3 separate regions of the Homo sapiens genome follow, and all the other regions are linked to region 1. Evidence: fine-mapped expression QTL. A gene starts in region 1. Each other region holds a variant in brackets. All regions are shown on one strand. Distances are from middle to middle. Region 1 holds the start of LINC03014 (long intergenic non-protein coding RNA 3014). Region 2 has its middle 17 kb from the start of FAM157D. Region 3 holds the start of LOC124901806 (a long non-coding RNA gene).

Evidence for each region. PIP is the estimated chance that this variant, and not a neighbour inherited with it, causes the effect. A credible set is the group of variants that fine-mapping cannot tell apart.
Region 2: its variant is the best candidate, but not a certain one, in a credible set for the expression of LINC03014 in monocytes (Quach 2016, PIP 0.63).
Region 3: its variant is the best candidate, but not a certain one, in a credible set for the expression of LINC03014 in activated CD8 T cells (Schmiedel 2018, PIP 0.58).

What each region holds. Positions count from the first base shown.
Region 1 is chr7:145,748-154,130 of GRCh38, reverse strand. It overlaps LINC03014 (long intergenic non-protein coding RNA 3014), which reads right to left and starts at 4,413. Exons shown (of 2, transcript NR_108065.1): 1 at 3,999-4,413; 2 at 1-722. It overlaps LINC03015 (long intergenic non-protein coding RNA 3015), which reads left to right and starts at 4,693. Exons shown (of 3, transcript NR_134325.1): 1 at 4,693-4,802; 2 at 5,513-5,599. RefSeq lists an enhancer at 4,668-4,962.
Region 2 is chr7:48,088-56,470 of GRCh38, reverse strand. No RefSeq gene overlaps it. Among named protein-coding and RNA genes, the nearest start is that of FAM157D, 17 kb to the right of the region's middle. The variant T/G (reference allele first, on the strand shown) is at 3,857.
Region 3 is chr7:179,102-187,484 of GRCh38, reverse strand. LOC105375116 (TRIO and F-actin-binding protein-like) reads right to left here. Exons shown (of 4, transcript XM_017012903.3): 4 at 6,759-8,383. The coding sequence ends at 8,270. It overlaps LOC124901806 (a long non-coding RNA gene), which reads left to right and starts at 5,152. Exons shown (of 2, transcript XR_007060631.1): 1 at 5,152-5,359; 2 at 5,530-6,724. LOC124901808 (a long non-coding RNA gene) reads left to right here. Exons shown (of 2, transcript XR_007060632.1): 1 at 1-587; 2 at 899-1,227. The variant G/C (reference allele first, on the strand shown) is at 4,154.

The sequences.
Region 1 (8,383 bases):
TCGGTGAAGGTCATGGCATCTTTCAAGGTGACTCTGTGCAACCTGACTTCCAGAATCCATTAACTGCTCCTCCCCTCCTGCCTTCAGACCAGGGTGAGAATAGCTCTGCTATTATTAGGTCCAGAACACTGCACTTTTTTGGTAGTTTTCCAGCCCTCTGCCTATGTCTCTGCAAACAGTCCCCTTACCAAGCCCTCTGGGGATGACGCTAGTGTGCCCTGCGTTCCCGCTGGGACATTGACACAGACAGAACCCATACAACAGCAGAACTCCCCAGAGGACAGCCTCACCACGTGCACAGTGAACGGCCTGTGTGGGTGCTCCAAGACGACAGCCTCACAGCGTGCACAGTGAACGGCCTGTGTGGGTGCTCCAAGACATCAGAGGGGTCCCAGAGTTCTCCAGAAAAAATAACTATTCCACGTAGCTGCTAGCGTGAGACGCTGGGCCAACCCGAGCATGTGGGGAAGGCACCTTATGCTCTGCCATCACCCACAATGTGATGGTCTTGGGGGTGGGGCTTTCCGAGGTGAGTAAGTCATGAGGACCCGTTGTCGTGGAAGGCTTGAGTGCCCTTATAAACGAGGCCTGAGCTGGAAGGCGCTGTGAGGAACAGGCCCTCCCCAGATGGCAACTTGGTCTTGGACTTCCCAGTCCCCATAAATGTGAGAGATGATTGTCTGTTATTTTAAGCTTCCCAGTCAGTTACAGCAGCCAAACTTCTATCAAAAATAATAAAAGAACAGCAATTAGAAGTTTAAGAAATAAAAGGTCTTAGTTTAAATATAAAGAAACTTAAATGTGGCAGGAATTTAAAGAAATAATGGAGGACAAGGAGAAAGCGCATCTGACCTTAAGGCTGGGAACGATTCCTTTGAGTGACTCAGGGGTTGTGGTCCTGGGCCTCAGGGAGGGACATATTCGCCCAGCAGACGGCTCAGCCCTGGTGCACACCCTTCATACAGATGTGCACCAGGGGAAATTCAGTTACGGTTAAAGGGCTAAATGCATACTTCATCAGCTCATCAGCTATAAAAGCAATCCTCTAATAGGATCCGGGAGATGAAAGAGGGAGTGGGGAGGGAAGGGTGGGGCTGGAACCTCCTGGCATTACAGGGTAGGGACCACCGGACACTGTCAGAAATGACGCGACAAGAAATAGCCTTGAGTACTTTCAATTAAAGCAACAAAGGCAACCACAGACAAGCCAGGCCTACTCCCACCACTGCCACTGCTGGCCGCGAGGGAGGAGGCCAGCAGAGCCCAAGTCCCTGGCGCGTCAGTGCCGCTGTGCTGCTGGTCCCCGCTCACCTCTGCCTCGTTTTCGGGCTCTCTGTGTGTCCTGACACCTGTGCCTCTCACTTGGTGGTCTTTCCTCCGTCCCTTCTTGTTTGCCCGGCCCCTCTTACAGTGTAGCACTCTAAAGCAGCTTTTCTTTATGGAAATCTGTTTATTCCAAAGCTCTGAGGCAGTGTTATAAATATTGGTTTAAAACATTAGCCAGGGGATTACTGATAAAATATAAAATAGAAACAATTTCCCAAGGAAACTTCATCTAAAAATACACCAGTTTCCCCTCTCACCTCACTTGAGTAGAGGCACCAGAGGGTGTGTCAGGACCTGTCTCGGGGTGAAGGTCTCACTTCCTCACGCCTCTCCCACATGGCTCCCAGGAATCCCCCAGGAATGGCTTGGAAAAAAAAAATCTGTGACAATGGAGAAGAGTTGCCCCCAAAGAAACGTGCATATAAACAGCTCTTCCAGCTAGAGAAAAAAAAATTCTGCATAAATAATTCAGATTGCTGAGCTTGGTCCCTCATGCCTGTAATCCCAGCACCTTGGGAGGCTGAGGCAGCAGTTTGAGACCAACCTGGACAACATAGCGAGAGCTGGTCTCTACAAAAAATACAAAAAATTTAGCCAGGCATGGTGGTGCCTGCCTGTGGTCCCAGCTACGCAGGAGGCTGAGCTGGGAGGATCACCTGAGCCTGGGAGGCTGAGTAAGCCAGGATCACACCACTGCACTCCAGTCTTGGCGATGGACTGAGACCCTGTCTCAATGATCAATAATAATAATAATTCAGACAAACCAGGTCGAAAAATGTCCTGAGACGGTGAACTCAGGACCCAGCTACCTGGGGTGGACACTGTGGCTGATGGACCGGAAAGGGTAACACCAAAGGGCTCTAGGAGGTGTCTCATGTCTGGCTGTTGTCACTCCCCTTGGCCGCTGAAAGCCTTTCTGTTCCCCAGAATCGAGTAAGGAGCTCCTGGACAGAAGTGGGGAAGGAGTCTTCCTGCTCAGGGCTATGTTACTTAACTCCGTTTAAGTGACAGAGCATGAACAGGTCATATTAGTGTCACATGCACCCGATTTCATTCTCCATTTGCAACAATGAAGACTGTATAACGACATTGTTAAATACCCCAGAATTATAATTAAATCTTATTAGCCAATAGAATCTGAGTGTGCTAAAATCTCTATTAGCCGGGACTGATGTAGCCACGATGGCCATGCTCGGCGCGGCGGCTCACACCCGTAATCCCAAAGCATTTCGGGAGGCTGAGGTGGGCGGATCACGACGTCAGGAGTTTGAGACTAGCCTGGCCAACATGATGAAACCCCGTCTCTACCAAAAATACAAAAATTAGCTGGGTGTGGTGGCACGCACCAGTAATCCCCGCTATTTGGGAGGCTGAGGCAGGAGAATTGTTTGAACCCAGGAGGCGGAGGTTGCAGTGAGCCGAGATCCTGCCATCGCACTCCAGCCTGGGGGACAAAGCCAGACTCCATCTTGGGTGGGGGTGGGGAGGAAGAGGAGAGAGACCAAGCAGCAATATCATCGATAACAAATTACAATCCAAATTCTAGGCGGTGTTCTGGGACTGGTTCACATCCAGCTTGGTCTGGCCTTGCCACTCCCACAGGGCAGGACACACTGAGGTCTGCCTGGGGGTGCCTGCTCTGGCGGCTGGGCTCCCCGCTTTCTGCAGGCTCAGGTGCCCCCTATTCCTGCAGCCCTTCCTGGACCCAGCCTGTCCTCATCTCAAACTCGGGGCTGCTGGCCTGAGCTTGATCCCTTCACCGTTTCTCACTAATACGTCACTCTCGCCTCTTAAAAGATGACAAAGACTCTCTCCTTTGACCACACTCGAGTCAGGCTCCTCTGAGCCCTCCCTGTGACCAGTCCCTGACCTTGGCCGGTTTCGGCCGATTTAGCAAGAATCCTGCTGAGTCGGTTTAGTGAAAATCGTCTACTCTTGGTCCCTGATCAAAGTCCTCAACTCCCACCCTCGGTCTGTGACCACACTGCCTGCCTTTTCAGCAAAAATCCTGTCTATGCAGCTAGAACCCGCCTTGCCCCTGACCCTTCCTCTTAGTAATTTTCTCTCCACTCCCGACCCTACGCCTGGGCTGTCAATTCCCACTTTTTCTATCTGGAGTTGAGCCGGATCTGCCTCCCCTAACCCAACATCTCGCTTTAGCAGCCCCCCCACCTTGAATAAAAGCAGCCTTGCCCTCTTTAACAATTAATAAGCACAGACTGGGACAGGACATCCCCCTCCATCCCAGCGCCCATGCACCCTCAGCCACGGTCCTCAGACCTCAAGAAACCCAGCGGGTGACAAGCTTGGGTGTCAGCGGGGCTGGGATTGCTGCTGGGGGCACAGGAGCTCGGGAGCACTTTGCAGGTGAGCAGGGCCTGGACAGGGGCTTCTCTGCAGCCCACCCCTGGGGAGGACTCCGGGCCCTCGCCCTGGACGGCAGAGCTCGTTTTGCTGTTGCCCTACTGTCTCCGCGACCTTGGGGGTTCACTTAGCACCCCCAGGCCAACACCTGGCCTCTCCATGCACCAACACCTGGCCTCTCCTTCCCTGGCCTGCCGCCCTGCCTGTGTCTGGACTGTGGTTCACCGAGTGTGCACGTGGGCCTCGGAGGCTGCCCTATAGAGCCCAAAGTCCCAGGGAGGAGCAAAGGGGACCAAGTGCACACTCACCCAGCTTCCTCTGCCCGGCAACGTCCCTGCCCCCATCTCCCCTCCACCGCCACCAGGGCCTGCATCCCCATCTGCAAAGGGGACAGGGTGCCCACGCCTTCTGAAGCACGCGCTCTCCAGGCCGCTCTCCGGGCGTCACCCCGCCCTGCTCCCCTCGCCCCTGCACAGCCCGAGTCCAGCCTGGTCGCTGCCATCAGGACGATCAGGACCGACCGCCACCATCAGTGGGGACCGGCCAGGGCGGTTAGGCCCGGTCCGGGGCCCCAGGTCCCGCGTCCCCGCCGAGGCCAGGCAGGGAGGCCTGGCTGCCCCGGGCTTTAGAACCAAAATAAGCCCCGAAATGATTGGCGGCGCCCATGCGCCAGGAGAAAACCTAAAGGACGAACGTTCCCGAGTACATATAAGGACGATTAATATTTATTGCACAACTTTTTTTTTTACTTCCTTGTTAAAGAGGAAAACCTTACGCTAAAAATAAAACGACTAGGAGCCCTTGTGCCTGCGTGGGTGGCGCTCGCGCCTTTAAACCTGAAGCCACAGGGGCTCAGCCCCCCACCCGCGCAGGGCGGCTCCTGCGCATGCGTAAACAGAAGGGGTCGGGGCGCGGCCCAAGACGACGCCAAGGGAGCGGACGGGCGGGGAGGAGGTGGCCTCTGCGCAGGCGCAGAGAGGAGCGAGCGACTCCTGCGCAAGCGCAGAGTGAAGGGCCGGGAACAGTGGAGGGTGCGAGGAAGACAATGGGGGAGGACCCTGAGGCGGCCTCTGTGAGCCGACAGGAACACGTGGTCGATCAGAGAGAGACTCGTAAGTGCACGGAGCTGATGAGGTGACTATGGCGTTGCGCAGGCGTCCTGTAGAGGCGGGTTGTCATCGGCGCAGGCGCGGTGTGGAGGAAGCCCCGGCGCCGGCGCAATGAGGAGGCGGCCGGACTCGGCGCTGGCGCAGTGTGGAGGAGGCTCCGGCGCAGGCGCAGACGCAGGGCGGGCAATGGCCGCCTGGGTCTCTCGGGCAGCCCTGCCCACCTCTCTCGCGTCTCCTGGTCTTGGCCTGCGGCTCTCTTTCTGGCAGGTGCCGCGGCGTCTCCTGCGGGCCTGACCGTGTTCTCCCGCCTAGCCAGGCTCTTCTGCGCTCCTTTTTTGTTGAGATTTTTCCATCCCCTGCACAGGAAGTGTCCTTTAATTACTCCAGTGTTTTTTTAGTTACTTTTTAAGAAACATTTTGGACTTTTCGATACAGAATAGTGTCAAAAAAAAAATTTAACCTTCTTCAGGTTATATTTTAGTGAATGATATTAATATATGTTCCAAAGTTGTATGGGATTTCTAAAATTCTAATTTTTCTGAGTATATGCTACCGATCATAATTATGGTTATGTTGTTGTTATAACCAAATTTCTTTGTCAATTGTGTCTTTTTGAGTATTTAAAGTCATTTCCGCAGTTAATTGCTTCATGCTGATGTAGTTTCTGAAAACTTCACAAGCACACAAAAATCCTAGAACATGGTGTCTTTTAGGAGGTTCGTGAACGGATGGGGAGGACCCTGAAAAGCACTGTGGAATACAGGTTTCTAGTAACTTCAAAATCACATCATTTGGACTGGGTAAGAATTGCTGAAACTTTAATGAAAAGACTGACTGGCTTATAAAACTGCTAACCCAAATAGAATAAAAATTAATTGAATACCGAGGAAATGCTTCACCAGGTTTGCATACTTAATCAGCCTATACTGAAATTGTTTAGATATACAATTTGAATGAACTCCATGGTCTAAGTCAAATTACCTGTGATAACCCATCAGTTATCCATGCTATGTGCCCAATTTGGAGAAACAACTGGCACCCAAGAGGACATAAGTCCGATGTTAAGCATGGACTCATGGAGAACCAAGATGGCTGCCTTGTCCTTCGTGAGTCCTTAAAGCTTTTGTTATTAAAAGTTATGCATTCCATGACTCATCCTGGAAAAGATAAAATGATCCAAATTAAATATGTTGGTGTGGTGACTTACAGATTGTTAAAATAGTTTATAAACAATGTTTAGTTTGTCAAACCCATACTCCTGGGAAGTCAATCAAAGCTTCATGTACATTTGGCTACCTGATGAGGCATTTAAACATTTATAAAGGGGTTTCATTCAGTTGTCATTTTCAATGTATGTGTTCTGGTTGTACTAAAGCTTTCCCATGCAGGAGGGCTAATGTTATAACAGTAGATTACTATGTATCAGTGTATTTTCACCAGGTAAAGAGCTTTTTATGGTTCACTGAGGACAATCAACCCCTTCACAATCTAGAACCCAAAGATGGGATCTTCTGAGAACATCAGAGAAACGCTGCCCTTGGCATCATCACTGCAACAAAACATCAGGATCTTGAACCTTGGGGTCATAATCTCACAACTGAGCAGGGTCACTCTTGGAACTCTACATCCATTGAAACCCTTAAGGTAAAGCTAATCAGGGAAGTTTCTCCCCAGAAGAAGATGGCATCCTTGATGTGAGCAGCTCTTTCTGAAGATCATGGATCAAGACTTCTTACTATCATGAGACTCTTATCTTTGAATGTTTTTCCGTTGCTTCCGCCTCTGTGAACAACAGAAGTGAGAAGGGGGTCTGTTTTGTGCACTTATGGGGTATACTTTTATTTGTGAAGGGCTTTGCAGCCAGCTTTATACATGGATAATCTTATAACTTGATAGATAAAGATGAAGGCCCAGTGTATCATAGGTGAGAAACTTCAATGGTACATATGGTGCCTCATAATCATTCAGAAGCAGAACATTGGTTCACTCCTCTTAACCCACAGCATGGGTTAAAGAGACCATTGCCAAGAGGCCTTCCCTCTTCTAGAAGGGCATCATTTGTTAGGTCCTTTTTCCATGGTTTGGAATTAAAAAGGCAATGACTAGAAACATATCCCTCATGGTAGACTCTGTAGCAGATTCTACTGTAAAGGCTACACAACAGATGTTAAATTCTCTTGTGAAAGTTATGCTAAAAAATAGAATTGGCTAAACAGGAAAGTACCTGTGCAGATGCTGGCACTTAAGGCCTATGGAGAAAACATCAGGTGTTATAGAGAGTCTGTTGTAGGGAATTAACGAAAAGACCACTGAGTTAAGTCAAAGAATGGTCTATTTGAGTTTAGGTGGTCTGGTTTATGGGGACCCTGGCTAAGGAGCATACTCCAAATTCTTGGTGTTAACCCTCTCAGTAGTCATAAGAATAGTCTCCCTGGTGCACTGTATTCTCTCAAAGGTTTTAAATGTTTGCATGAAGCCATCTTTAGAACGTCAGATGGTCTCTCTTCAACTGGAATGACAAGAGCTGAAAGAAATGTGTGACCACGAGGACACCGAAACCGATGAGTGACATGCTGAGACTGGAAATCCAAAATGATAGTAACGGAGAGTGGCGCTAACATCCTAAGTTTTGGTCACACTCTTGCCTAAGTGACAACCTGACAAAGGGGGAATTTTTTAAACAAAATGATGGGAGGCCATTGTTTTGGACTGAGCACTAGGTCCCAACAGACCAAACCGAACCAAAATGGCATCATTCGTGCTAAATGTGACATAATCGAATTAAGACTTTAAGGAAACACATGGGTCCTAGAATAGACCAGGTTTTGTTTTTCTCTTGCAAACAGGACTTTCCAGCATAAGGTGGTATCCTCAACTCAGTCCTTGTTCCTACCTTTGCAAAACTCACTGTTCTGCTTCCTAGTGGGTTTCAAGACCAATGGTGACAGTGACATCAATAACTCAAGTTTCGATCAATCTCTCAAAACTGATAAAATGACCAAAAAGGGGGAATTGTTAAAGCGAACTAAATATGGCCTGAGAAGGACTCCGTACTTCTGTATTGGAGTCCCTGTGAACAAACTGAGCCTAACTTAATAGGTAGACAAGATTGAAAACCTAAATTAGGAGTATGTACCTGTCACAATTGCTGAGTCTCGGCCAGTCCCAGCAGCCGTACTTCAATCACTCATACACTGCTGAATGTTCAAACTGTGTGTAAATAAGGCAAATGCCAACCTGTAACTAATCCAGGTGTTTCTCTACCTCACTTCCCTTTTTTTGTCTATAAATCTTCCACCACGTGGCTGCACTGGAGTCTCTCTGAATCTGCTGTAATTCTGGGGGCTGCCCGATGTGCAAATCATTCATTGCTCAATTAAACTCCTTTAAATTTAATTCAGCTGAAGTTTTCTTTTAACAAGAGTGAGATAAGAATCTGTGTTCTTATCCCCCAGAATGGACAAATCAGTAGCGTTCCTTGTCATTCTTTTGTGGCTGGTTTCACGTAAATATTTTGTGTGTATGATAATAGAATTTGATTTTAATGAATATACTTTAAAAGCAACTTTTTTTTTATTCTTCCT
Region 2 (8,383 bases), 98 kb after region 1:
TGGCCGTGGAGCAGAGTGATTCCTAGTAGAGCCGCATGGGAAGCTGTGGCATATGGGTACTGCCTGTACTCTCTGGCTCACTTGCTTACTCATGTATTGCTTGTTTGCGCAGCACCTGCTCTCTGCCAGACACTCTCCTGGGTACAGGGATGCAATATCCCTCATGAGCTCAGACACATACAGGACAGCCAGACAATACAGCAAAACAGAAGTGAACACTGTTTTAGATGGTGAGGAGTGGCAGGAGGGGAAATCATGCGAGAAAAAGCAGGAGTGCAGATCATGACGGAGGGAAGTGCTGGAACCCAGAGGGGAGGCTTCAGGTGGTCCTGGGCTGAAGCAGGGGCTGGGTCAGGAGGAACAACTGAGGCTGGACGCAGAAGAGAACAGGGTGACCGGGCATAAGGCAGGGGGACACTGTTTGAGTCTTGGATGGAGAGAGTGTGAGTTGGGTGCAAAAATCCTAGAGAAGTAGCTACGGTCTGAGCTGCCAGGCACCAGGAGCGGGAGCTGTGAGCATACTTGTGGCCTCCCACCTGAGGCCACAGGAGGGAGACTCATAGGATGTCCTCCCTTTGCACTTGCTGCTTAAGGTCTCAGGGTGTCAGAGATGAGGACGTGTGTTCATGTGATCCTGCCCCTAGTGGGTCAGCTCATGAAGCAGGGAAGGCTGCCCAAGCTGACGCTAAACTCCCATAACTACCCTTGACCAAGCAGGTCTCTGAAAGGGGACTGTGAGTCCCACTGCAGGAAGGGACAAAGCTTAAAGCACCAATTCGCATTTTATCCTGAAGACCTGAGAGTCTTTCAAACTTATAGAGGTTTTTTTAGTTAAAGAAGAGGAGAAAATGTAAAGAAAAAGGAAAGGATAGGAATAAAATAGACCTTGAAAACCCAATGGAAACAAACCAAATTTGGCTTCTGATAATATAATTTCATAATGCTTCATTGAAATATCATGTACTTACAGAAAAGTGCTCAGTAGATTTTGAAAAACCAAGCTCACCCTGTGGCCATTACCTGGACACTGGAGCAGGGTGTGAGCTGCCCGCAGTGCCTCTGTGGTCCCTCCAGCGTGGCCTCCTCCAGGGAAAACACTGTCCTTACCCCAGCAGCACAGACTAGTTTCTTCGTGGAATTTCTTTTTCCCAAGGACCACAAAGGAAGCAGGGAGGCAGGGAATGGGGGGCAGTTTCCCTTCTTAAAATAATGTGACTGGAGGGAAAGTGGATACAGGCGGGAACCCTCAGCAAGCTCCAAGGAGCCCCACCGCCATTCAGTATCCGTCACGGAGCAGCCACAGTGAGGCCAAAGTTGCAGCTCACATTAAGAACAATTAACAGTTTTACACCACTTTTCCACATTCTTTTTAAAAAATTACGTTCTTGCATTATTTTCCCCATATGGATTTTTAAACATGAGAGTGCCTAAGTCGATTGGACGGAAGTTCAATCTGGTCTTGATTACCTCTGACTTCGTGAGTTAATGAGCGCTAAGTAACTCACCTTTCCTTTAATCTGGAAGCAGTGGCCCTGCCTGTGGGGTGGGGGACACAGGCTGAGAGTGGACCACAGGCTCCGAATCACCTATTCTGGTGCATGTGTCCTACTCTCAGGCCACAGATCCACAGGGTCAGACTGAGCTGCGGGGAGTGTGGCCCCACCCTGTTTCCCTTAAAGCAGGTTACAGAGGATTGACCTAGTGGGGTCACAGAGAGCACCGTGAGCCTGAGACCCAGGCTCTGGTCCTACCTTATCACGAACTCACTGTGGGCCTCAGCCTGGCCAGACCTCTCTCAGGGTCTCTGTTTCTGCATCTGTATAATGAGGCCCCATCTGTAGTGTTAGATGGAAACTGAGTAAGGACTAGAGGGGTTGGGGGTGATTCACCAACTCTTTACCCCTCAACAGAGCAGAAGGACAGCTTCCAGAGTGTGCTTCCAGAGGGCCCTGGGCGTGTTGAGTCCTAAGAGGAAGGAACCCCCATCATCATGGTACATGCTGTGTAACCCCACAGCCTGGCTCACTGTGTCCACTGGAACCCACGTCCTTGGGGTCAGAAACCTGGAAACAGCCACTCTGTTCACAGAGAAGCAACCTTTCAGTGTTTTCCTTTCCCCTTACCACAGGGATGGCCGTGTTAGAATTACACTCCTCTACACCAGCCAGGTGAGTTACTGCAGGCTTATGACTTCATAGGTCACCTGGCATGCATTTGTAACAAAATCTTTGATGTGATAAAGCAACAGACTCCATTGCAAAAAACATTAGCAATCTCTCCTCACTAAGTCACAACTTTGATAAAGTGTTTTCTATTCAAAAAACTTAGTGCAATTATGGTGCAGAGCTGAGATCTCAGCACAATTTCATTTACAATCAACCTGGCATCTCCAATGCACTAATTGAAGCATTATCACTATTGTCTTCCGTATGAAATATGCGCAAAGTATATTTCTTTCCCTTTATCCCCCCAGTAAATAGCATATTCTGGACATGTAGCATTTCAATGAATGTGGCAGTAGGCCACGGGGACCACTGACCCTCACACCTGAGAGGACACTGAGGCCCTTGGAGGTGGAGAGACTGCCCAATGCACACAGCTCATGTCAGTGCCTCTGTGATGGCTTTCCCCCCAGGTGACTGTCACCCCAACATTTTACTGACACACACAGAGTTCCTGGCTCTGTCCTCCCACCAGCAAACTTTGTGCATAGCCAGAGTCTCCTCCCGCCTGCTGCACTTGGGGTTTATAGAGAGCACTTAGGCCTGCAGGAGCTAAGATTGCACAACTGCACTCCAGGCTGGGGAACAGAGTGAAACTTCATTAAAAAAAAAATCCACAGCTAAGTTGATGCAAAAGCAGCATCTAAATCATAGACTAGAAAAAGCAGCCACCACATGTGACAGTGAAGCTTCAGAAACTGCCTTTGGGAGGTAGGAGCAAGGCAAAGATATGCCCTTTCTATGTACCCTTTCTATGCAACCTCGGGTAGAGTTACCGGCTTGTGCAATAATGCAAGAAAATGAACTAAATGTGGAACAATGGGTCAGGAATAAAAGGAAACCATCATTCTTTATTGACCCTATAAAAATCTACATTTTAAAAGGTCATAACAAATAAGAGAGTTCAACTGGACACAAGACTAGTAAACAAAACTATCAGCAGTACCCAATTCATAATTATAAAAAGCAATTTCATTTGACATCAACAAAAGTTATCAGTTACCTAGGAATACATCAACTAAGACAAGGGTAATAACTTTATGAAAAAATAAAGATATCAGTGAAGAATATTTTTAAAGATGTCTATAAATGGGGAGGTGTGGTGAGACCTGCATGGTAAAGCGATGAAGTCTCCCCAAGTGAGGTGATGAATTTGATGCAGTTCCCACCAAGCACACACCCATGGGGACACGTTCACCTGCATCTGTTTACGTGTTTTTTAAAACTTGACTGGCTGACTCCAAAAACAATACAGGACAATAATAACCAAGATACTTTTAAAGGAGAAAAAGTAAGTCGAGGATACATTACACCAGATATAAGCACACCATATAAATCCATTGCAATTACAGCCACATGATATCTTGGTAGAAGAGAAAAATAGACCAAAGGAAAAGAGTACAGAGCACCAAAGAAGACCCTCTTCTGTGTTGAAACTTAGTCTATTAGAAAACAAATAAAGTGCCCAATCGTTTGGGCAATTGGCTCTTCATTTTGAAAAAAGATACCTTTAGATCTATACCTCAAGACATACACAAAGGTTATTTTCAGGTGGACTGAGAAACTTTATAAATATAGCAAGACTCTTTAGATGAAAATATAAGAAAATATATTTTGAATACATTTTGTGGATT[T/G]CGCAAAATACATAGAAAAATCACATGATCAAAAGATTAATAAAATTGACTAAAATTTAATAATAAATATATCTATAATAATTTTTTAAAAAATAATAATAAAATCTAAACTTTCCCTTCCACAAATGATATGGAGACTAGGATAAGGTATTTGTAAAACATCTTGTGAACTAAAGATTTCTATTGAGAGTACTTAAAGGTTTTTAAGTGGTGCTGGCTCCCCTCTTAGGGGACTCTTAGTTCAAACAGGTTTCCTCTCATGGCTGAAGTGTTGAGTGCCTTTTCCACTCCCGTTCTCTCACAAGTGTGCAGAGGCAACTGACGTGTGATGTCACTGCAGACTGAATACAGAATTCCACATGGGAAACTTGTTTCCCAGGAGCCAGGCAGCAGGAGCATTCACACATCTAAACAATGCTACTCCTGTCACCAGTTTCTAAAGAAAATATAGTTATTTTCGTAACATGTTATGTTATGAACATAACATAATCCTTGATGTTCATTAGCATAATGGATTCATTATGAGTTTTCACTAATTGGTTACTTAATGTGATGGTTACTATTGTCAACTTGATTGGATTGAAAGATGCAGAGTATTGTTCCTGGGTGCGTCCGTGAGAGTGTTGCCAAGGGAGATTCACATTTGAGTCAGTGGACCTGGGAGAGGCAGACCCACCCTCAATCTGGGTGGGCATCATCTCATCAGTTGCCAGTGTGGCTGGGATAAAAGCAGGCAGAGAAATGCGGAAGGACGAGACTGGCTGAGTCTTCCGGCCTTCATCTTTCTCCCACGCTGGATGCCTCCTGCCCTTGAATACCGGACTCCAAGTTCTTCAGTTTTGGACTCTTGGATTTACACCAGTGGTTTGCCAGGGGCTCTCGGGCCTTTGGCCCCAGACTGAAGGCTGCACTGTCGGCTTCCCTACTTTTGAGGTTTTGGGACTCAGACTGGCTTCCTTGTTCCTCGGCTTGCAGCCTACTGTGGGACTTCACCCTGTGATCGTGTGAGTCAATACTACTTAATAAACTCCCTTTCATATACACTTCTATCCTATTAGTCCTGTCCCTCTAGAGACTAATACTCTTAAGATTTTAAATTGTTCTCCATTTTCATCTTTAACATGGTAAATGTTAATAGATAAACCATACTTATTAGGGTTCTCAATTACTTCTTATTATTTTTTTAATTGACACAATATGGCACATATTCGTGGGGTTCACAGGGATGCTGCAGTACATAGAATGAATCAAGGATTAGATCAGGGTGGCGAACACATCCATCGTCTCAAACACGATAATTTCTCCTCCTAGCTATCTGAAACTATGAATTATAGTTAACTATAGTCACCCTACAGTGCCAAAGAACCATAGGACTTATTTTTCCCATCCAGCTGTAATTCCATATCCTTTAAAAAATCTCTCCCTATCCGTCCCCTCTCCCTCCCCTTCCCAGCCTCTAATATCCTCTGTTCTACTTTTTACTTCTATGAGAGCAACATTTTTTAAAGTTTCCACATGTCAGTGAGAACATTCAGTATTTAACTTTCTGTTCCTGGCTTATTTCACTTACCATAATGTCCTCCAGTTCCATCCGTTTTGCCATGAATGACAGGACTTCATTTTTTTTTACAGATGACTAGTATTCCACTGTGTGTATATACCACGTTTTTTATCCAGTCATCTGCTGTTGGACACCTAGGTTGATTCCACGTCTTGACTATTGTCAATAAACATGGGGTTGCAGATATTGGTTTGATATACCGATTCCTTTCCTTTGGATAAATGTCCAGGAGTGGGATTGCTGGATCTTATGGTAGTTCTGATGTGGGGCAGGTGAGCCCCAAGGTGGAGTTTAGTCTGCAAGGGTTCTTGCCTTTGCCCAGGAAAGAATTCAAGGGCAAGCCAAAGGAAGAAGAAAACAGCTTTATTTATTTAGAGACGGAATCTTGCTCTGTCACCCAGGCTGGAGTGCAGTGGAGCGATCTCGGCTCATTATAACCTCCGCCTCCTGGGTTGAAGAGATTCTCCTGCCTCAGCCTCCCAAGTAGCTGGGATTACAGGCACGCACCACGACGCCCACCTAATTTTTGTATTTTTAGTAGAGACGGGGTTTCAACATTTTGGCCAGGCTGGTTTTGAATTTCCCACCTCGTGATCCGCCCACCTCAGCCTCCCAAAGTGCTGGGATGACAGGCGTGAGCCACTGTGCCCGGCCAAAAACAGCTTTATTAATAAAGAAGAAATGTTACAGCTCTGAGACGGTTCCTGCAGAGCAGGGCTACCCTCTCTGCCCTGTAAGAAGAGAAGAGCAGCTCGGGGCAGTTTTGCAGTCATGTTTAATCCACTTTTAATTTCACGCGGATTAAAGACGGTTTATGCAGAAATTTCTAAGGAAGGCATAGTAACTTTTGGGTCATTGAGTCATTGCCATGGAAAGGAGCGGTAACTCCCGGTGTCGTCATGGCAACGATAAACTTCCATGGCACTGGTGGGTGTGTCTGATTGAAAGCTGCTTCCGCCCCAGCCCTGTTTTAGCTAGTCCTCAATCTGGTCCGGTGTTCGAGCCCCACCTCTGGAGTTGAGTCCCACCTCCTACCTCAGTTCTGTTTGTAGTTCTGTGAGGAACCTCCACACTGCTTTCCACAGTAGCTGTACTGGTTTACATTCCCACCAACAGTGTCAAGAGTTCCCTTGGTTATTTTTTGTCTTTTTGATGAACGCCATCACAACTGGGGTGAGATGATATTTCTTTTTTTTTTTTTAATTTTTTTTTTAATTATTATACTTTAAGTTTTAGGGTACATGTGCACATTGTGCAGGTTTGTTACATACGTATACATGTGCCATGCTGGTGTGCTGCACCCATTAACTCGTCATTTAGCATTAGGTATGTCTCCCAGTGCTATCCTTCCCCCCTCCCCCCACCCCACAACAGTCCCCAGGGTGTGATGTTCCCCTTCCTGTTTCTATGTGTTTTCATTGTTCAATTCCCACCTATGAGTGAGAACATGAGGTGTTTGGTTTTTTGTTCTTGCGATAGTTTACTGAGAATGATGATTTCCAATTTCATCCATGTCCCTACAAAGGACATGAACTCATCATTTTTTATGGCTGCATAGTATTCCATGGTGTATATGTGCCACATTTTCTTAATCCAGTCTATCATTGTTGGACATTTGGGTTGGTTCCAAGTCTTTGCTATTGTGAATAGTGCTGCAGTAAACATACGTGTGCATGTGTCTTTATAGCAGCATGATTTATAGTCCTTTGGGTATATACCCAGTAATGGGATGGCTGGGTCAAATGGTATTTCTAGTTCTAGATCCCTGAGGAATCGCCACACTGACTTCCACAATGGTTGAACTAGTTTACAGTCCCACCAACAGTGTAAAAGTGTTCCTATTTCTCCACATCCTCTCCAGCACCTGTTGTTTCCTGACTTTTTAATGATCGCCATTCTAACTGGTGTGAGATGGTATCTCATTGTGGTTTTGATTTGCATTTCTCTGATGGCCAGTGATGGTGAGCATTTTTTCATGTGTTTTTTGGCTGCATAAATGTCTTCTTTTGAGAAGTGTCTGTTCATATCCTTTGCCCACTTTTTGATGCGGTTGTTTGTTTTTTTCTTGTAAATTTGTTTGAGTTCATTGTAGATTCTGGATATTAGCCCTTTGACAGATGAGTAGGTTGCAAAAATTTTCTCCCATGTTGTAGGTTGCCTGTTCACTCTGATGGTAGTTTCTTTTGCTGTGCAGAAGCTCTTTAGTTTAATTAGATCCCATTGGTCAATTTTGGCTTTTGTTGCCATTGCTTTTGGGGTTTTAGACATGAAGTCCTTGCCCATGCCTATGTCCTGAACGGTAATGCCTAGGTTTTCTTCTAGGGTTTTTATGGTTTTAGGTCTAACGTTTAAGTCTTTAATCCATCTTGAATTGATTTTTGTATAAGGTGTAAGGAAGGGATCCAGTTTCAGCTTTCTACATATGGCTAGCCAGTTTTCCCAGCACCATTTGTTAAACAGGGAATCCTTTCCCCATTGCTTGTTTTTCTCAGGTTTGTCAAAGATCAGATAGTTGTAGATATGCAGCGTTATTTCTGAGGGCTCTGTTCTGTTCCATTGATCTATATCTCTGTTTTGGTACCAGTACCATGCTGTTTTGGTTACTGTAGCCTTGTAGTATAGTTTGAAGTCAGGTAGTGTGATGCCTCCAGCTTTGTTCTTTTGGCTTAGGATTGACGTGGCGATGCAGGCTCTTTTTTGGTTCCATATGAACTTTAAAGTAGTTTTTTCCAATTGTGTGAAGAAAGTCATTGGTAGCTTGATGGGGATGGCATTGAATCTATAAATTACCTTGGGCAGTATGGCCATTTTCATGATATTGATTCTTCCTACCCATGAGCATGGAATGTTCTTCCATTTGTTTGTATCCTCTTTTATTTCCTTGAGCAGTGGTTTGTAGTTCTCCTTGAAGAGGTCCTTCACATCCCTTGTAAGTTGGATTCCTAGGTATTTTATTCTCTTTGAAG
Region 3 (8,383 bases), 33 kb before region 1:
GTTGGAGCCCAGGGCTCCTCAGATGAGCCAGCGCCTGAGCCCTGAGCTGCCAGCTGGCCTGGCTGGAGCCGCCACTGATCTTCCCAGGAGAAAGAGGCCGCCGTGCGTAAGTAGCGAGGTATAAGAGGACGTGTAGAGCCGTGTCGCTCGCGCAAGAAGGGGAAAGAAGGAAGCCTGTCTGCATGGCTGCGCAGGGGATATTGGAACAGAACTGAAGGAACTCATGCAACGCTTCTCTGTGAAGGGGGCACCGCGATGTATGGACAAGGGTGGGAAAGGGATGCTGGGCCATAAAGTTTGGGGTGCGTGATGGTGTGGAGGAGAAAGCCCTCCTGGGAGCTGTGGCCAGGGAGTGTGCAGTCCACGAGCAGATGGAGCTTTATGTGCCTCCCACCTCCTCCCAGGGGCCCCCCACGACTCGCTGAGGCCCCATCAGCAACAGGATGACGGGTTTTCTTTCCCACACAGATCGGGGACGTCCCAGCCTCCTGAGGTGGGGCAGAGGCGGGCACCGCAGCCCAAGAGCTGGCTTTCCCCCTGCACCTCCACCCATGCGTTGGCCTGGAGTGGCCCAGCGGAGGGTCCAGGTGGGGGTGCTGGAGGGGCCCACCCAGCTCAGGCCTGGCACCTGCACCTTTCTGGATCCCACGATGTTTTGCTGAGGGTTACTCATCCAAGACCTGCCCGGAGGCTCCGAGCTGTTTACCACAGGCCAGCTCTGGCCGTAGCCTATTCTGGGAGCCTGGGGGTGCTGGGAGGAGGCTGGGGCTCTGGGTGGCAGGAGGAGGAGAGCCGTCTTGTCCTTACTGAGCGTCCAGCGGGCGCCAGATGCTGCGCCGCGTGCAATTCTAATCCTGGCCGGCAAAGCCAGAACGGGACAATATTCCTTCCTCCCCAGGCCTCCCGCTTGGCTGTGGGTGCTGACGGGCAATGGGCCTGGCTATCGGGGCTCACAGGGGAGCCGGGAGAGCCGCTAGCAGGAGAAAATGTGAGCTCTGCATCTGCTGGGCTGGGTTCGGGGGACGCGGGGTGGCTGGGGAGGGTCGTGCTCGTCCCTCCGGCTGCTGTCGCTGGCCCGCCGGCCAGTCCGCCCCAACGCTGGACTCCTGGGCTATCCGTTCCCCACCCACCGTCTGAGGGTCTTTGAAAATAGAACTCATTCGTTTTCATTAAAAGCAACCGATCAAGAAGCCGAAAACACAAGAATAAAACAATGTAAAAGCTTGACTTTATTTTGTATCCGTCAAACACAGGACTCACAGTCCGTTACACATGGAGCATTCGCAACACTGATCATGTTCTGATGGTCACACAATGTCGGGAAATTCCAAAAGGCAGATAATCTAGAGTCTGTTCACGGCATCCACACACACACACCGGTGCACAGGCACACGAGCACACAGTCTACAGATTGTTCGTAGACACAGTGTGGTATAATGAACAAAAGCTGGCTTTAAAAATAGTTCTACCTGGGCCCGGTGCGGTGGCTCACGCCTGTAATCCCAGCGCTTTGGGAGGCCGAGGCGGGTGGATCACCAGAGGTCAGGAGTTCGAGACCAGCCTGACCAACATGGAGAAATCCCGTCTCTACTAAAAATACAAAAATTAGCCGGGTATGGTGGCGCATGCCTGTAATCCCAGCTACTCGGGAGGCAGAGGTGGGAGAATCGCTTGAACCTGGTAGGTGGAGGTTGCAGTGAGCCAAGATCACGCCACTGCACTCCAGCCTGGGCAACAAGAGAGAAACTCTGTCTCAAAAAAAACAAAAATTAGTTAGAAGGAAGTGGGTCAGATGTGGCCCCTACGGCCTCTCAAACATAGAATTCTTAGTTCTCTACCAAGAAACTACTTAAAGCAATGACCAGACTTCCAGGCCTACATATTAGTTATATGAAAGAGTCCAAAAAAAGTCCAGGGGCTGGGCTCACAGGGGCTCACACCTGTCATCCCAGCACTTTCAGAGGCCTAGGTGGGTGGACTGATTGAGCTAGGAGTTCGAGAGCAGCTGAGGAAACAGAGGGAGACCCCATCTCTACAAAAAATAAAAACATGAGCCGGGCGTGGTGGTGCGTGCCTGTAGTCCCAGCTTCTCAGGGGGCTGAGGTGGGAGGATCTCCTGAGCCCAGGAAACCGAGGCTGCAGTGAGCGGTGATCACACCACCGCAGCCCGGCCCGAGCAACAGCTGGACCCTGTCTCAATAAAAACCCAAAAATCAAAACAGCCAGACCTCTGCTTTCTGACCCTCGTGGGCCCTGTGAGGCCGCAGCCTGAGGGAGAAGATGCCCAGGGCTGGGACAGCCGCACCAAGTTCCTGCCGGAGTCGGGGAGGCCAATCCTGCCGGGGGCCCCGGAGAAGGCAGAGCAGAGGGCACAGCACCCAGGGATTCAGCCGGCCCCGCGTCCTGGGGATGCTACCTGACGGGGTGCTCTGTGCCCTAAGGGGCCCTTGAAGGCAAGGGGATGGGCTGCAGGCCACCGAGCCCCAAAGCCACATCCCCAGACCAGACAGCCCGAGGAACTGGAGGAGGAGGGAGGAGCTGGCCCCACAGCAGACGGCACTTGGCGTGGCCGCAAGCTGGGCCGGCCTTAGCACTTTGCACGCAGAGTCTCAGTGAGTCTTTGCTACAAAGCACACGTTGCTATTATTGTGGTCACTATTTTTACAGAGAAACTTGACCTCTTCGCCAGCCTCACCCATTCAGCCCTATGCTGGGTTTAAGCCATCTTGGAATTCTGGACACTTAGGAACAAGAAGCCCACATCTGCTTCCCAGGGTCCTGCCCTTCCCTGGGGGTCCCCGTGCTGGAGGCAGCAGTTGGGGTGTGGGAAGGAAAGGCCAGCGCTGTGGGAGGGGCTGGGCTGAGGGTGGGCTTGGAGCCAGCACATGGGGGCTAGGTCCGGCTTGTCCCTCACCAGCCAGACGGCACTGGGCATGTCAGGGAATCTCTCAGAGCTCAGTTTCCTGCTGTGGGAGGGAGCTGCTGGCTCTCACCTTGTTGTGAGGACTAAACTAGCTGCCATCTGTGGCCTGCTAGTCATGGGGCTCTGGTCCTCTTGTCACTGGATCTTGGCCTTGACCTCCCCTTCTCTCTCGTGAAGCTGTCGGCTGCGTGGAGACACAGCCACTTCAGTCCTCTCATAAGCCTATGCCCAGCATCTGCCAGGGGCCAGGTCCTGGGCTAGTAACCTGGCACTGGGAGCCCAGGCTCCGCTCTTGTCCAGGGGAAGCTGCAGCCTTGGGAAAAGCAGGTGGGAGACGCAGATTCTAAGTACCTGACCGAGGGACGCCTCGAGGACGTGAGGGAGGCCGGGCACCATCCGTGGAGGGGCCCTGTGAGCGGGCCCAGCAGATAGACAGGGAGCACCTCCATGGAGGAGACAGAGAACCCCTGTGAGGGCCCCGTGGCTTCTGCAGCTCCCGGTGCTGGCTGTGGGTGGTTTGCCGGTCGGCCTGCCTGTAGTTCTCAGTGGCCGCTCGGAAACACGTCCTTTCTTATGAAGACGCAGACGTCACAGCCGAGTTGAAAGGAATCTGAAGAGGATTTGGGTGCTCCTCTGTCACAGCCTAGATCATCGCGAGGCCACGGCCCCCCAGGACAGAGGGGCCCGGGGAGGGTGGGGACAGGAATTGAAGACATGATCAATTAAATCGTCTCCTTCCTCCAATAGGTAGAGTATGATCCTGTGTCCATCAACACTTCCTAACGTGCATGTAGAAGCTAAAATTGTTAAGATTTGCGAAATACTTTTACCTCGAAGTTGGCAGTGACATCATTCTGTTTTTTCCTGGGTGCGGAGGAGTAATTTCAGAAGGAGACATTTTGTAAAATTAAAAGGTATTCACCAAATATTTCATGCATGAGTGTAATCTACAGGTTTGGTGATTAGGGATGAAAACGCATACATTAGACAAAAAAGATTGGATATTTAGAAGCAAATTTGAGATTCAAGTGAGGATAAATTACAGGGAACCTCTTATCAGAGCCCGTACATGCCTGGGTCTGGAGTGAAAGCCTCGGGCTACGGCCTCAGGTGTGGAGGAGGTGGGGTTCTCTCTCCTATTCAGCCTCCCCTTCCTCCTGGGGAAGCTGCTGTGCTGTCGCTGGGGCTGGGCCATTGACTCCCTGTACCCCACCAACCCCACCACCAAAG[G/C]GGTCAGTTCAGGCTCCAGCTCCCCCTCCCTCCCCAGCTGTCGGTGCGAGCCCAGCTGTGCCTGCCCTTGGTCCCCACAGGCTCTGTCCTCCGAACACCAGGCTCTGTGTGGGCCCTGGGAGTCCTGGCCCGAGGGGTCTCCCCCTGGGGAGCGCTTGGGAGGGAAAATCCTGCTCTCAGGGTCTCTGAGTCCAACCAAGACAAAACCTGCTCTTCTCAACAGAGGCATGAGCTCCTCCTTCCTGGCAACCTGGGGGATCACAAAGACAGACGGCACCTCCCCAGGCACCTGCGCCTGTGTCCGACGGCAAAGCCATTGTCAAGCGAACCTGATGCTGTCACTGGTCACCCGGAGCCCATCAGCATGTTGACCCGGGGCCCATCAGCATGTTGAAGGCACTTTCTTGCTGTTACAGGGGAGGAACTGCTAAAGAGGCCACCAGACACAGAACACAGTGATAGTTTTAGGTGTAAAATTATTGCACACAGATAAATTCTGGAAACAGCTGCCTAGAAAGTTCTTTATATTGGAAAGTGTGCTTTGAGGTCATTATGCCGGATTTTATGGCCATTTCTTGGCTGAGCCCCGGGATGGCTTATGTCTTTGCAGAAAGGCATCATCACATTTTATGAATGACAGATGGCTTTTACCACACCTTTGCATGATCGCTTATGGTAATAGGACTGCGGTGCCCTGAGACGTGGGGATCTGCGTGAGTGCCCCCGGCAAAGTCTGCTCTTCCGGCCTCGAATCTGGATCCCAGGTGAGGCCTGAGGATTTTATTTCTTCCTCTGATCTCCCTGCCGGCGGGGCCACTGTGGCAGGACAATTCGGGGCCCCGCCCCCCAGATGTGCAGGTGCAGGCCAGTCTCGGGGGGATCGGCGGCTCCCGGGGGGCTGTGTCGGGGGGATCGGCGGCTCCCGGGGGGCTGTGGGATGGTTCCTCTGTCCCAGGGCTCCCGCACGGGAGGGCTTTGCACGTCCACCCCTCCTTTCCTTGGCTAAAGCCTGTTCTTACCAGAAGGTGAAATGAAGACGATTCCTTTTGTTCGGTCCCCTCCACTCCTAAACTCTGTCTAGAGCAGGGGTGGGCTCCCTCCTTGTCTGTGCCGCCCACTCGCCTCCTCGCCTCCTGTCGCCTCCACTCCTGACCCCCATCCAGAGTGTGGGATGCTGGGTTGCCGGTGACCATGGGGAGCCGTAAGGTGAGGGAACCCAGCTGGAGACCAGGGCCCACACCAAATCGTGAGCCTGTTTTTGAAGCTACTGAATGGGTGGAACTTGACTGTTCAGGGGACCCTGGAGGACTCACTCCTTTCCACCTGTGTCTCTGCTGGGTCTCACCTGGCGCCCCTGGCGATACCTGGCTCTGCAGTGGAGCAGTCACCACCGCACCCTCCCCGTAGCTCCATCCCCACGCGTCCAGGATAGCGTGGCCGCTGGTCAGCTGCCGACAGCACACATAAGAAGTCATGGATGGGTCCGAGCGGCTTCCAGGACTCAGCACCCAAAGCAGCCCCGTCCTGACGGTAACAAGCCTGCCCCATGGGGCGAGGCCCTCTCCCCTCTTCCTCAGATTCACCCAACCCACTTCTGTCTGTCAAGAGCAGGCTTGAGGAACAGTCAAGCTTGAGTTCTCTTGGCCTTTCCTGGACATCTGTCCTGAGGCTGCTCTCATTTAAGCCTCACGGAGGAAACCCAAGTTTCTGCAGCAGGAGAGGGGCGTGACCCCAGGGACAGCCGGAGAAGACGGTGTAGAACCAGCTGTCACGGAGCCTGATGTCCGGCCTGGAGCATCAGCCCATCACCTTCAGAGTGGACCCGAGGGCCTCACCTGCCACCTGGGGGACAGGTGAGAGGCGGCCAAGGACCCCAGACGATGAGGGGCAGAGTGTCTGCACTTGTCACCAAAGGCTTCCAGGGAAAAGCGGGGATGTGTGGACAGGAAGGGGCCGGCGGGTGGGATCAGGGCACTGGGCGAGCCAGCTTCCAGTTATGGGGGCTGCGGGCAGGGGAAACTCGAGCCCCTTGCGGCTCCAGCCTTGCCAGGGAGCCCGAGAGCTGGGCTGGCACGCCGCTCTGTGAAGGGCTGGACGGTGTGCTTCAGGCCTCGAGGTCACTCTGCCTCTGGTGCAAACGCTCACCTCTGCCGCTGTGGCCCAGAGCAGCCTTCGACCCACGTGATGAGTGTGTGTGGCTGTGTCCCCACATCTCCTTGTTTATGGATGCTAAAATTTGAATTTCCTATAAGTTTCACATGTCACAAAATAGTCTCTTGATTTTCCAACTATTTAAAGATATAAACATCATTTTTAGCCCTCTGTTGGACAAAAACAGAGGCTGACTTGGGCCCTAGAGCTGTAACTTCTACCTCTGCCTTAGATGACTCTTTTTAAAGCATTCTAGCTGGGCCTGGTGGTTCCCACCTGTGGTCCCAGCTACTCAGGAGGCTGAGGCACGAGGACCTCTGGGTCTGAGAGTTCGAGGCTGTAGTCAGCCGTGACTGCACCCAGCCTGGGTGACAGAGCGAGACCCTCTCTCAGTAACTAAATAAATAAAAGACAAAAAGAGGTAATTTTGTCTGGATATTGTAAATATAGGCTATTTCATGAAGTTTCAATTTATTCACACTTTTTAAAGCGCACTGTGTTGCAGCAGGACTCATACCTGCTGTGTAGCTCAGAGTTTGTGAGTTTCCTCCTGGACTTGGAGACAGCTCACGTCAGTCCAGCCCCGGCCAGGCGATGGACAAGGCCGGCTCTCCTAGGTGGCCCTAATATCCGACTCTCTAGCTCACTCCACTCAAAGCACCCGGGACGGCCCCTCTTGTGGCGGGGGAGCCCCCAGGGAGGCTGAGGCCGAGGGGGCGGGTGCCAGCTGTTGCCCAGCTCCATGTGTGAGAGGCGTGGATTCTCCAGGTCAGGTCCGCTCCAACAGACCATTCCACAAGGAGCTGGTGTGACCTCCGAAGCAGGGTCCTGGCAGGAGGGGTGTACACGCAGGGCTGGCCCTCCCTGGGGTCCCCCTGACGTGGGCGCTCCTGGGTCTGGGAATGTGGGTTTGCTTCCCCCAAGGGATCTGTTCTGTCTCCTCCCCTGCCTCCCTCCCTCCTCAGGGTGGGCTTCAGGCAGCAATCAGCTGCCCAGGGCCTGCCTGACCTCCACCCCCTGCACCAGGGACCTGGGGCTCCGGGGCCCACTAGGCACAGAGGCTCTCCAGCCGGGCCGTGGCCTGCCCCCTCCTCCAGTGTGGACCCTCCGGACAGCTCATCCCCCCGCAGGCCCCTCCATTTGGAGGCCCAGGCTGCTGTCTGCAGGGGCAATGGTCTGTGATGCCAGTTTTAAAGTACAGGATTACAGAAATCCTAAAATGTGGATTATTTCTGACCATCAGAAACCACACAAGCTACATTTGCTGAAATCCTATTGCTCTCAAGGGCTGTGGAAGAGACATAACCCGAACCTCAACCCTAACCTGGGAAGACCCAACTGCGACCCATACAGGGCTCTGGGGACCCGAGGCCTTGGTTCGTGCCGGCCACTCGCCTAGTGCTCCCTCCAACCACCCTTCCTGGAAAACTCTTACCCACCCTTCAGGAGCCTCGTCAGATATCACCACGCCTGTGAGCCCTCCTTGATGGGTTTGCTTCTCCTCCTCCCGGGCGGCCCCACGGCAGCTTGGCCATCTCACACCTCATCCTGGGCCAGAGGCCTTGAGAGCTGGGACTGCCTCACCCTCCCCTGTTGTCCCAGCCCACAGCCGGCGTTGCAGAGGGCCCGGCTCTCCCTCCCACTGTTCCCCGCTGCCTCTGGACCGTGTTCTCCCTGTCTCCTGCCCTGTCTCTCCCTCCGCTCCTCGAGGCACACATCAGCTCAGCCCCGCCTAAGCTCCTTCCCAAGGACAGCTTTGGGACCTCTTGTCCCAACCAAATAAACCCTGAGAGCAGCCAGCTACCACTTCCTGCCGCTGCGGCTTCATCTGGGACAGAAGAGTCCACGGAAGCAGCTTCTCTTTTCTTGGACTCCGGCAAAGGGGTCACTTGAGGCTGCAGCTGGAGCCGGTGTCCCCGAGGAGTCGCCGGGGAAGGTGCTTCCCAGCAGATCTTGGGATCACTGTCAGGAGCTTGAGAGGAGCCAACAGCGGCTAAAACAGCGATTTCTACAAACGTCACAATTCAGCAACAGGCCTGCTTCTGCCAACACTCGGGCGGCCGCTGCTGTTCCTGCCTG